Linked DNA regions of Homo sapiens: regions 2, 3 and 4 are each linked to region 1. Evidence: fine-mapped expression QTL. A gene starts in region 1. Each other region holds a variant in brackets. All regions are shown on one strand. Distances are between the middles of the regions.

What was found. PIP is the estimated chance that this variant, and not a neighbour inherited with it, causes the effect. A credible set is the group of variants that fine-mapping cannot tell apart.
Region 2: its variant is the best candidate, but not a certain one, in a credible set for the expression of CWC25 in blood mononuclear cells (TOPMed, PIP 0.80).
Region 3: its variant is the best candidate, but not a certain one, in a credible set for the expression of CWC25 in whole blood (TOPMed, PIP 0.57).
Region 4: its variant is the best candidate, but not a certain one, in a credible set for the expression of CWC25 in whole blood (INTERVAL, PIP 0.63).

The regions. Positions count from the first base shown.
Region 1 is chr17:38,823,742-38,826,358 of GRCh38, forward strand. CWC25 (CWC25 spliceosome associated protein) reads right to left here and starts at 1,580. Exons shown (of 10, transcript NM_017748.5): 1 at 1,425-1,580. The coding sequence starts at 1,442. MIR4727 (microRNA 4727) reads left to right here and starts at 2,097; the gene lies at 2,097-2,151. RefSeq lists an enhancer at 288-919.
Region 2 is chr17:38,778,892-38,781,508 of GRCh38, forward strand. It overlaps PIP4K2B (phosphatidylinositol-5-phosphate 4-kinase type 2 beta), which reads right to left. Exons shown (of 10, transcript NM_003559.5): 4 at 1,561-1,713; 5 at 492-638. Among named protein-coding and RNA genes, the nearest start is that of PIP4K2B, 19 kb to the right of the region's middle. The variant TC/T (reference allele first, on the strand shown) is at 1,218.
Region 3 is chr17:38,799,703-38,802,202 of GRCh38, forward strand. CWC25 (CWC25 spliceosome associated protein) reads right to left here. Exons shown (of 10, transcript NM_017748.5): 10 at 739-2,500. The coding sequence ends at 2,390. Among named protein-coding and RNA genes, the nearest start is that of PIP4K2B, 1.4 kb to the left of the region's middle. The variant G/A (reference allele first, on the strand shown) is at 1,093.
Region 4 is chr17:38,793,631-38,796,247 of GRCh38, forward strand. All of the region lies in intron 1 of PIP4K2B (phosphatidylinositol-5-phosphate 4-kinase type 2 beta), which reads right to left. Among named protein-coding and RNA genes, the nearest start is that of PIP4K2B, 4.6 kb to the right of the region's middle. The variant A/G (reference allele first, on the strand shown) is at 1,420.

The DNA.
Region 1 (2,617 bases):
TTCCCATCTTGTCCTCCCTGCCTCAAGCATAGATTATTTTGCTCCCCAGGGAGAAAATCTTCTGGAGTCATTTTTGGCTGTCACAACTGGTGGAGACGGGTGTTAGTGGATAGCTCCAGTCTAGTGGCTAGAGGCCAGTGATGCTGCTAAACATTCTACAATGCACAGGACAGCCCAACTACCACCACTACCACACACCCCCAAAGAATTATCTAGGCCAAACTGTCAAGAGCGCTAATGTTGAGAAACCCTGGATTAGAGCTTTCCTGTCCTTAAATGCAGTTATGTGAAGAATACACTAAATTGGATGAAACTAGATGGAGTCCTGGCACTCACTGTGATTGAGAACACATGACAAACTAATAGGTTTACTGGGCAGGCGGCTAAGCTGATCTACTTGCTGGTTCAATTAGCTCCACTTTCCGGAGGCTAGCATTTTCCCAACCTTGCCCCATGCTCTTGTGGGTACATTTACCCTATTTGGGGCCTTAGCGCTTTACAAATGAACGTTTCAGTTTAAGAGACATTGCCACATAACTTATATTAAGTGGTATGAATTCAAAAGCAAGCTCTGCCACTACAGATCAGAATCCAGCACTGAAGGAGGTGTGGAAGTCAGAAAGATGGACAGGAAGATCCCTTCAGGCTTAAAAAGGACCCCAGGGCCGGGCGCTGTGGCTAACCCTTGTAATCCTAGCACTCTGGGAGGCCGAGGCGGGCGGATCACTTGAGGTCGGCAGATCGAGACCAGCCTGACCAACATGGAGAAACCCTGTCTCTACTAAAAATACAAAATTAGCCGGGTGTGGTGGCGCATGCCTGTAATCCCAGCTACTCGGGAGGCTGAGGCAGGAGAATCGCTTGAACCCAGGAGGGAAAGGTTGCGGTCAGCCGAGATCGCGCCATGGCACTCCAGCCTGGGCAACAAGAAACTCCGTCTCAAAAAAATAAAAAATAAAAAACGACCCCAGGGCATGGCTTAGGGTAGGGAGAATGGGGCACAAACCACCCCTACTTCAGTCCAGGACATGACTCTGAACTCTCACCCAAGGAAGAGAGGTGTGTGGCAAGACAAGATATACAAAACAAAGTGTGGTGACACGTCCTCCATATCTACCTCCTTTCCTAGCCATGGCTCCATCCGCCCCCTCCCCGGTCTTCCCAGAATTTACAGCCGGTAGAGCCGCAGTCAACAAACACGCAAACACCACCTGTCACTGTTCGCGACACACCTCGGACTTTCCCAAATCTCAGTCCCACCCCTCCATTGCCCTAAGGATCCATCCCCTCTTCAGGGCAACGGCCTCCTCCCGGCGAAAGCAAAGCTGCGTTGCCATGGTTATCCACTCCTTCCTCTACCCCCACCCCCTGCCAATTTCCGTCCCGGCCTCAGTCCTCCCCCGCCCAGGCCTCCCTCCACTCACCAGGTCTCCGCCCCCCATGACGGTGGAGACGATTCCTCACTACGCGGATCTGGAAGATTTCGGGAGGATCAAGAGAAAACGTAGAGAAATAGTTCGGGGGCTACCTCGCGGGATCTAGTCCCAGGAGCCGTCAACTGCCAGTTTCACCACCGCTCTAGAGGTCACTTCCGGGAGGGCGTCATCTCACCGCGTCGGCGTCGCGGAACGATGACGTACAGGGCTCGGTCGCGCTTTGTGACGTTGGCGTTACTTGCAGATTTTGCAAAGGTCCGGGCTCCGCTGTCGAGGCCTTTGCTGTCGAGGTCTCATTTTGGCTGCTTCGGGTCGCCACGTTGCCTGATGTCCCAGACTCTCTGTTGAAACGCCACAACTCTGTTCAGTGATGGGTTGCCGTGGGCCTGTGCCCACGGCTGTGTTGCCATGGCAGCTCACCAGGGCATTCGGCTCAAAGCTCCACGTAGTCTCTGCTAGACCTAAGGTGGACCAGACTAGGCCTCCTCCCCTCACCCTGCACACACCCCCACGCTCCAGTTTTCCAAAACGGCTTTGCAAACTGGCGCTTTCCTCAGACCTTGACTCACAGCAAATCCCCTTATGCCAGGCCTATTTTACGAAGCTAAATAGAAACCATCAAATCGAAATTCCATCAGCTTCCGTTTGCCAAACTTTTAAAATCTGCCAGCTTCCACAGTGGCAGATTTTCCCATAGTGGGAAGCTGGCAGATTCCTTTCCCTTCAGTTACTATGTGTTTTTGGCATGTTTTTCTTTTTTCTTTTTCTTTTTCTTCTTCTCCCTTTGTTTTTGTTTTTTGAGAAGGAGTTTTGCTCTCCCAGGCTGCGGTCGAAGCTGACTGCAACCTCCGCCTCCCGGACAGCAATTCTCCTGCCTCAGCCTCCCAAGTCGCTGGGATTACAGGCGCCCGCCACCCGCCCGGCTAATTTTTGTATTTTTTGTAGAGACAGGGTTTCACCATGTTGCTCAGGCTTGTCTCGAATTTCGACCTCAAGTGATCTCCCCGCCTCAGCCTCCCAAAGTGTTGGGATTACAGACATAAGCCACCGCGCCTGGCTATTTTTATTTTTGTAGCAACAGGGTTTTGCCATCTTACCCAGGCTTGTCTCAAACTCCTGGACTCAAGCAATCCTCCTACCTCGGCCTCCTAAAGTGCTGGGATTACAGGTGTGAGCCACTG
Region 2 (2,617 bases), 45 kb before region 1:
GGGAAGAGGAGCACAGGCACTGCAGGAACACAGAGGAAACCAGCCCAGTTGCAGCACAGAGGGAAGGGATGGCGGCATAAGGTGACAGAAGTCAGAAGCCAGGTTCAAGAACACGGAGCACCCTAGTTCACAGCCACAAGTGTGTCCTTCTCAGAGTCTAGAGATGCACTTGTGCTGGCAGTCCATGGGGGCCTGATGGATGCTAAAGTGCATGCGTCAGCACGGCCTCCCTCACTGTGCACATTCCACAGACAGGAACATCAACTGCTGCATAAATATGGCACATTTAGGGCTTAAATAATCTCCTGTTACTGTCACCTGGACTTCAAACTGCCTTTGGTCCACAAGAATCAGGCATATCCACTCCAGAGTTCCCTGTCCATGCCAACACATAGGCTCCAGCTTCCCAATTACATGGAAGTTGGAGTAGTGGCCCCTTCGGGGCTCAGATAGAGGGGAGGCACAGCTCCGGCAAACACAGAGCCCTTTACCTTGAGGTCATACTTGCGATGCACAGTGAGCCGATGGCTGAACACGTTCCTGGTAACCACCATGTAGGTTTCCACACCATCCACGGTCAGGCGGTACATGCCCAGGAACTGTGGCAAAAGCGTGTTGCCATGACACTCCACTATAAACTAGAATGGAAAGGAAGAAGAGAGAGGACTAAGGAACAGGCAGTGCCAGGGATGGATGGGGCTCACCCCAGACTAAAATGCTCCCTGGCTCCCTGGGATTCTAACCTCTAGACCAGTAGTTCTCCAGCTGGGTTCTATGAAGTAATAGGGGTTTCTCAGGCTTAAAATGGGCAACAGCCACCTCCAGCCTCCTGTTGGCATGGCAGAGGGAGAGGCAAGCTGAGCAGGTGGCTCAGAGCCCCTGTGGGTTCATATTATTAGTATCTCACCTAAGATTTTGTTTAAAGTAGGATTCTACCACAGGAAAATCCCTGATCCACACCTTGCATCTCTTCTGCCAGCCTGATATGGGAATGCCGCAGGGAAGAGACAGGATGCAGAGGCAGGCCAGGGATCCAGCCATCTGGGAGAAGAGAACAGCTCCATATCCAAAGCTCTTATCCATGCCATGCCCCAGGGTTTCTGCCATAACTCCTGAAAGACCAGAAGCTCCCTTCGGCCCTTCTCAGGTGCCCCAGAAATGAAGACCCAAGTAGGCTGAGGACAGACACACAGATGGTGCCACGGGGCTCCCTGCCT[TC/T]CTCATGGACAGGTTCCAGATGAGTGGAGAGATGGGACGGGAAAAGAAACAAGCCTGCCGAGCTGAGGGGGCCTCTTTCAGAAGAAACGGGGCGGATGCCAGTGCGTGAACACTTTCCAACTGGGAGTCAGTCAGCGATGAGCCTTCATGGCTCCTTTTTTCTTTTTTAAAGTAGGCATTTCAGCTCACAGAAATACGGTTGCAGGAGAGTCCCACTGCTTGGTGATCAGAAGCAGCTGCCATTACCAGAGAGGACCAACCCCTCCCTAAGAAGCTCCCCCAGGGCTCTCTTCTCCCTCTTCCAACCCATCCTCTGCAGCCCAGGCTTGGGACTCACCATACCTGGTGGTATTTCTTTAAGATGTTGTGCATCTCCGCCACGTCCTCGCTGGACACAGTCTTGATGACAAAGCGCCGGTCGTAGGTGGTGAGGAAACGCGTGCCACACCGACCCTGGCTGTCACTGTTGATGGGGGCGCTGCGCGTCACTGAATTCTGATAATCGAGACAAAAGAAGGCTGGGCTTGGCAGGGGAACAGAATTCTGACTTTCGCTGAGTCTTCCCTCAGGGGCTGGACTGCTTGAAAGCCAACAACACTGAGATAGAGGGACTCCCAGATGGGAGTTTACCCTCCCCTTTTCTCACAGGGTGTTCACATCCCTCCCTAAGTCTTCCTCCAAAGTGACAAGAATTGTTCCTTACCACCTGCTCTTCATCCCAGTCTAGGATGGGAAGAGGACTGACTGTGAAAGTTTCCATCCTGATCCCAGATAGCTATCCTACCAACTAAAATTCTGCCTCTGATGGAGGGGGCTGAGTCTAATCTGGACTCTCACACGCACTATGACCTTGGGTGAGCCATTTAACTTCTCTACCCCTGCATTTCCTCATCAGGAACACAAAGATGCAGACTGAGCTGATTCTCCCAGTCTCTTGGGGGTAGCAAAGATGAAGCTTAGAAAATACTGTCTTCAAGGGGTCTAGCACAAAGAAGCAATGCCCATTCGTCTCTTGTCCCTGGATCTACCCTAATGCTGAAAAACCTTCCCCAAAGCAGGAAGCTGATCCTCATCTCTGAGCCTGACACCTTTCCCCTTGCCTCAACCTCCTGCTTGTCTATGCAAGGCTGGGAGGCAGTTTTGGGGAGCTTTCCTGGCTGTATCCCTGCTCCTCCTCAAGGTCCTACTCCCATTAGGATCAGAGAGCAGTAGAAGCCTTAAGAGGGAGGGTGTGGGAAGGCGTGAGTCAACCAAAGGGATATGTTCACCAAGCAGATGCCAAGGGACCTCTGGGAAGCAACGGTGAGGGGAGATCCCAAGTGTCCCTGTTCCCAAGAAAACATACATGGGGATCATGTCACAGAAATGTCTCCTCTCCAAGATGTTTCCCCATCTCTTA
Region 3 (2,500 bases), 24 kb before region 1:
GGTACGGCCCGTCCCGGGGAGGCAGCGGCCGCCCCGCCCGCCCCTCCTCCCCGGGCCTGACAGAAACCCGCCTGGCCTCCGAACGCCTCGGGGCCCCGTGCCGGAGCCGGAAGGGGAGGAGGGCTGGGCAGGCGTCGCTGTGGACCGCGGGAGGGGCTCCCCGCCCGGGCCCCCCAACGCCAGGGTTTGGCTCTTTCCCGCAACCCGAATGCCAAGATGGCGGCGATGCCACCGCTCCGGAAGGGAAGGAGGGACGGGAATGCGAGGAGGGCGGGACGTACCATGCCCACCCCGGGGGAGAGGAGGGACGCAGCAAGGGGAAGAGAAAGTCCAGCCTAGAAAGCCAAGGAACGCCCCCTCGCTCCACCTAAGCGTGGATCTGCCCACTCTGCTGGGCCCCGGGCGCGCTCCACCCGCGGGGCACGCCCCTTGCCCCCAGGGCCAATGAGAGAAGCAGGCCAGGAACACTGGTTTTTATGAATGGGCCCCGCGCCCACCCACCTGCTGCCTGTTCTCCCCGCAAAGGGTCAGAGCTCAGAGGCCGCCAGCACCTTCAGACACCTATCCCACTAATCGTCTTACTCTGGCTCATTTCGTAAAATCTTTGAGTAAACTGCCCCACGCTTTGTTACATAATTCTCAGATGAGGGATCTCCATATATTCGACACAAATTACAGGTCAACGTTGTTCTTTCTGCATGGAAATTCGTAAACACGGTACTCCACAGGTGGTCGCTCTTTAAACAGTTACAAAAATAAATGTGGCCTTTATTACCAATTATAAAATAAACATAATTAACCCCGGCATAATGAAGTGATTAAATGAATAAAAACGTATGTTACATTCTCTAGGGAAAGATCGGGTTTCAAGCATTACAGTGCCTGGCATCATAAGTGTTCAAAAACAGAAATCCAAATACATTTTAAGCAGAATTAGGAATTAGCAGAACAAGGAAATCGCCCAGCTAATGTGCGGGTCAAGAGGGCCTAGGAGTTCACTGGTCAAATGAGGGCTTCTGGTGAAAGAATAGAGAAGGGAAAAGGAGTAAAGACAGGAGAGTGGCCCCTCGAGGGTTTTGTTTTGTTGCTGTT[G/A]TTTTTTGAGACGGAATCTCGCTCTGTCACCCAGGCTGGAGTGCGGTGGCACAATCTCGGCTCACTGCAAGCTCCGCCTCCTGGGTTCACGCCATTCTCCTGCCTCAGCCTCCCGAGTAGCTGGGACTACAGGCGCCCGCCACCACGCCCGGCTAATTTTTTGTATTTTTTTAGTAGAGACGGGGTTTCACCGTGTTCGCCAGGATGGTCTCGATCTCCTGACCTCGTGATCCGCCCACCTCAGCCTCCCAAAGTGCTGAGATTACAGGTGTGAGCCACCGCGCCCAGCCTGTTTTTTGTTTTTTTTTTAGTACCTGACTGAAAGAGACTAGCAAACAACTCCTGAAAATCTGTAATTGTAGTAAGGTTACTACACGGTAAGAAGTGAAGCCGCAAAATAAAAACTTCCATTTTATTTTCCTTTAGGAGCCATGGAGCATATTGGCAATTTGGTTCTGACTCCTAAAATCATTTTACTATACCTTTACACTGCCTACATTGGAGACTGCAAGCAGTGGAAAAGAATAGATACTCCAGATCTCGTCGATAAACCCAGGCTCCTCCTAAACCAGCCAGATTCAGAGAGAAAAACGAGCTGGCCTGCCTTATTGTATTACTTGCCATCAAGGTTCAATGTGGTTCTATTACCCAGTAAAGTCATTGACCAAACAAGGTATTTTCACAAAGCTAACCTTTTTTAAAAGCATGTAAAAATTGTACATTTGTACATATACGCATTACAATTTTACATCCAAAGATCAAATAGTTAACAGTTCATTTAGGGCTTTTTGTATTGTTTGATTTTCCAGATTCTGTCACTCCCTTGGCTTTGACCTAACCTGACATCATTCTGTCACATTATCTTCTAAATCAAGTAAACGTTCATTTGTCTCAGTAAGCACAATCTATCTGGGTGACACCAGAGAGGTTTCTGAAGGGTCTGGTGTACGCTGAGGCAGTGAAATAGGTCTGTTGGCACAGGTAAGAAGGAAGTGGCATGATAAACATCACAACCCCAGGGAACAGCCTTCCAGAGTGGCACAAGCACTCCCACCGAGATGGTCCAGTGCCCACCCGTTAAAGAGTCAAAACCCAAAGTTACTGAGTGTCCCACAAAGCAAGTCACACTAGCTCTCAAAGGAAGTGAGCTGTTTCAGGACTCAATGAAGCAGGGTCACTTTGAACACTGGTGGTTTGACATCTGTGAAAGAAGTCATTTGAACTCTTATAAAGAGAATTAAGGGGTCAGCAGCTTCCCTGGAAAATGCAGGAAAACCAATAAGAGAGGGGACAGTTTTCATCTTTTCATAAAGTTCTTCTCCAGAGCTACCGAAGTTCTCTGTAAAGAGTAGATATTCCGCTTCACCCGATCCTCCAGGGAGGAAGTAGATGCACTCTCCAGCTTCAT
Region 4 (2,617 bases), 30 kb before region 1:
AAGACCGAGGTGGGCAAATCGCTTGAGCCCAGGATTTCGAGACCAGCCTGGGCAACATGGCAAAACCCCGACTCTTCAAAAAATACAAGTGTTAGTCGGGTGTGGTGGCATGTGCCTGTAGTCCCAGCTACTCGGGTGGCTAAGGCAGGAGAATCACCTGAGCATGGGGAGGTAGGGGCTTCATTGAGCCGTGATTGTGCCACTGCACTTCAGCCTGTGCAAGAGCGCGAGACCCTGCCTCAAAAAAACAAACAAAAAAAAAAACAAGAAAGAAAGAAAATGTATGGACAGAACAGAACTGGGGTGGAATGTAGGAGAGAAATTGAGCAGACTAAAGAATAAATCTGTCCCTCACACCATACCCAAAAGTGAATTCAAAATGGATTACAGACTTAAATGTAAGAACTAAAACTATACATACTCCAGCACTATTCACAAGAGCTAAGGTGTGAAAACAAATCCATCAACAGATGATAAAGAAAATGTGGTATACATATACAACAGAATACTATTCAGCCTTAATAAAAGAAGGAAATTCTGCTATGTGCAACATGGATGAACCTTGAGCACCTTACGCTGAGATCAGCTAGTCGCAGAAAAACATATATTGCATGATTCTCCTTATATAAGGTTTCAAAACAGTCCAATTCATAGAAACAAAGAGTAGAATGGTGGTTGCCAGGGGCTGGGGGCGGGGGAAATGGGGAGTTAATTGGTAGGCATAAAGTTTCATTCAAGCGAGATGAATACGCTCTACAGAGCTGCACTATGACACTGTTCCCATGGTCATCAATAACATAATCGTACACTTAAAATTTTGTCATGAGAGTACATCTTATGTTAAATGTTCTGACCACAATACAATTAAAAAAAAAAAAAGAAGAAGAAGAAAGAAAGAGCTAAAACTCTAGTTGGGAGGATTGCTTCAGGCCAGAAGTTTGAGAACATCCTGGGCAATACAGAGAAACCCCAATTCATTAAAAAAAAAAAAAAAAAAAAAAAGAGCTAGAACTATAAAACTTTTAGAAGAAAACAAAGGAGTAAATCTTCATGACCTTGGGTTAGGCAATGTCTTCTTAGATATAACACCAAAAGCACACACAACAACAACAAAAAAGATAAACTGGACTTTATTAAAGTTAAAAACTTGAACTTCAAAAGATACCATAAGAAAAATGAAAAAGGCAGGCCAGGTGCAGTGGCTCACGCCTGTAATCCCACCACTTTGGGAGGCCGAGGCGGGGGGATTGCTTGAGGCCAGGAGTTCGAGACCAGTCTGGCCAACATGGCAAAACCCTGTCTCTACTAAAAATACAAAAATTAGCCTGGTGTGGTGGCGGGCACCTGTAATCCCAGTTACTCAGGAGGCTGAGGCAGGAGAATCGCTTGAACCCGGGAGGCAGAGGTTGCAGTGAGCCA[A/G]GATCACACCGTTGCACTCCAGCCAGGGCGACAGAGCAAAACTCCATCTCAAAAAAAAAAAAAAAAAAAAAAAAAGAAAAATGAAAAAGACAACTCAATGAATAGGATAAAATATTTGCAAATCATATATCTGATAAGGGACCTGTATCTAGAATATAAAAAGAATTCTTGTAACTCAATAATAAGAAGATAACCCAATTTAATAATGGGCAAAAAGATCTTTGTAAATGGGCAAAAAATTTAATAGACATTCTCCAAAGAAAAGATACCAATGAAGGCTGGGGATGTGGCTCATGCCTGCAATCCCAGTCCTTTGGGAGGCCAAGGCGGGAGGACCACTTGAGGCCAGGAGTTCAGGACCAGCCTCGGCAACAAAGCGAGACCCTGTCTCTACAACAACAACAAAAAGAAAATGTACAGGCCAGGCACAGTGGCTCACACCTGTAATCCCAGCACTCTGGGAAGCCAAGGCAGGTGGATCACCTGAGGTTAGGAGTTTGAGATCAGCCTGGACAACATGGTAAAACTCCATATCTACTAAGAATACAAAAGTTAGCTGGGTGTGGTGGCAGGCACCTGTAATCCGAGGTACTTGGGAGGCTGAGGCAGGAGAATCGCTTGAACCAAGGAGGCGGAGGTTACAGTGAACTGAGATTGTGGCACTAAACTCCAGCCTGGGCGACAGAGCAAGACTCTGTCTCAAGAAAAAAAAAAAAAGAAAAGAATATGTACAAATGGCCAGTAAGTACATGAAAAAATGCTCAACATCATTAGTTATCACAGAAATGCCAATCAAAGTCACAATGAGGCCGGGTGCGATGGCTCATGCCTGTAATCCCAGCACTTTGGGAGGCCGAGGCAGGTGGATCACCTGAGGTCAGGAGTTTGAGACAAGCCTGGCCGACATGGTGAAACCTTGTCTCTACTAAAATAAAAAAATTAGCCACGTGTGGTGGCAGGCATCTGTAATCCCAGCTACTGAGGAGGCTGAAGCAGGAGAATTGCTTGAACCCGGGAGGTGGAGGTTGCGGTGAGCCGAGATTGCACCACTGCACTCCAGCCTGGGTGACGGAGTGAGACTCCATCACAAAAACAAACAAACAAACAAAATCACAATGAGATACGAATTCACACCCAACAGAATGGCTTTAATAACTTTAAAAAGACAATAACAAGTGTTGACAAGGATGCAGATACT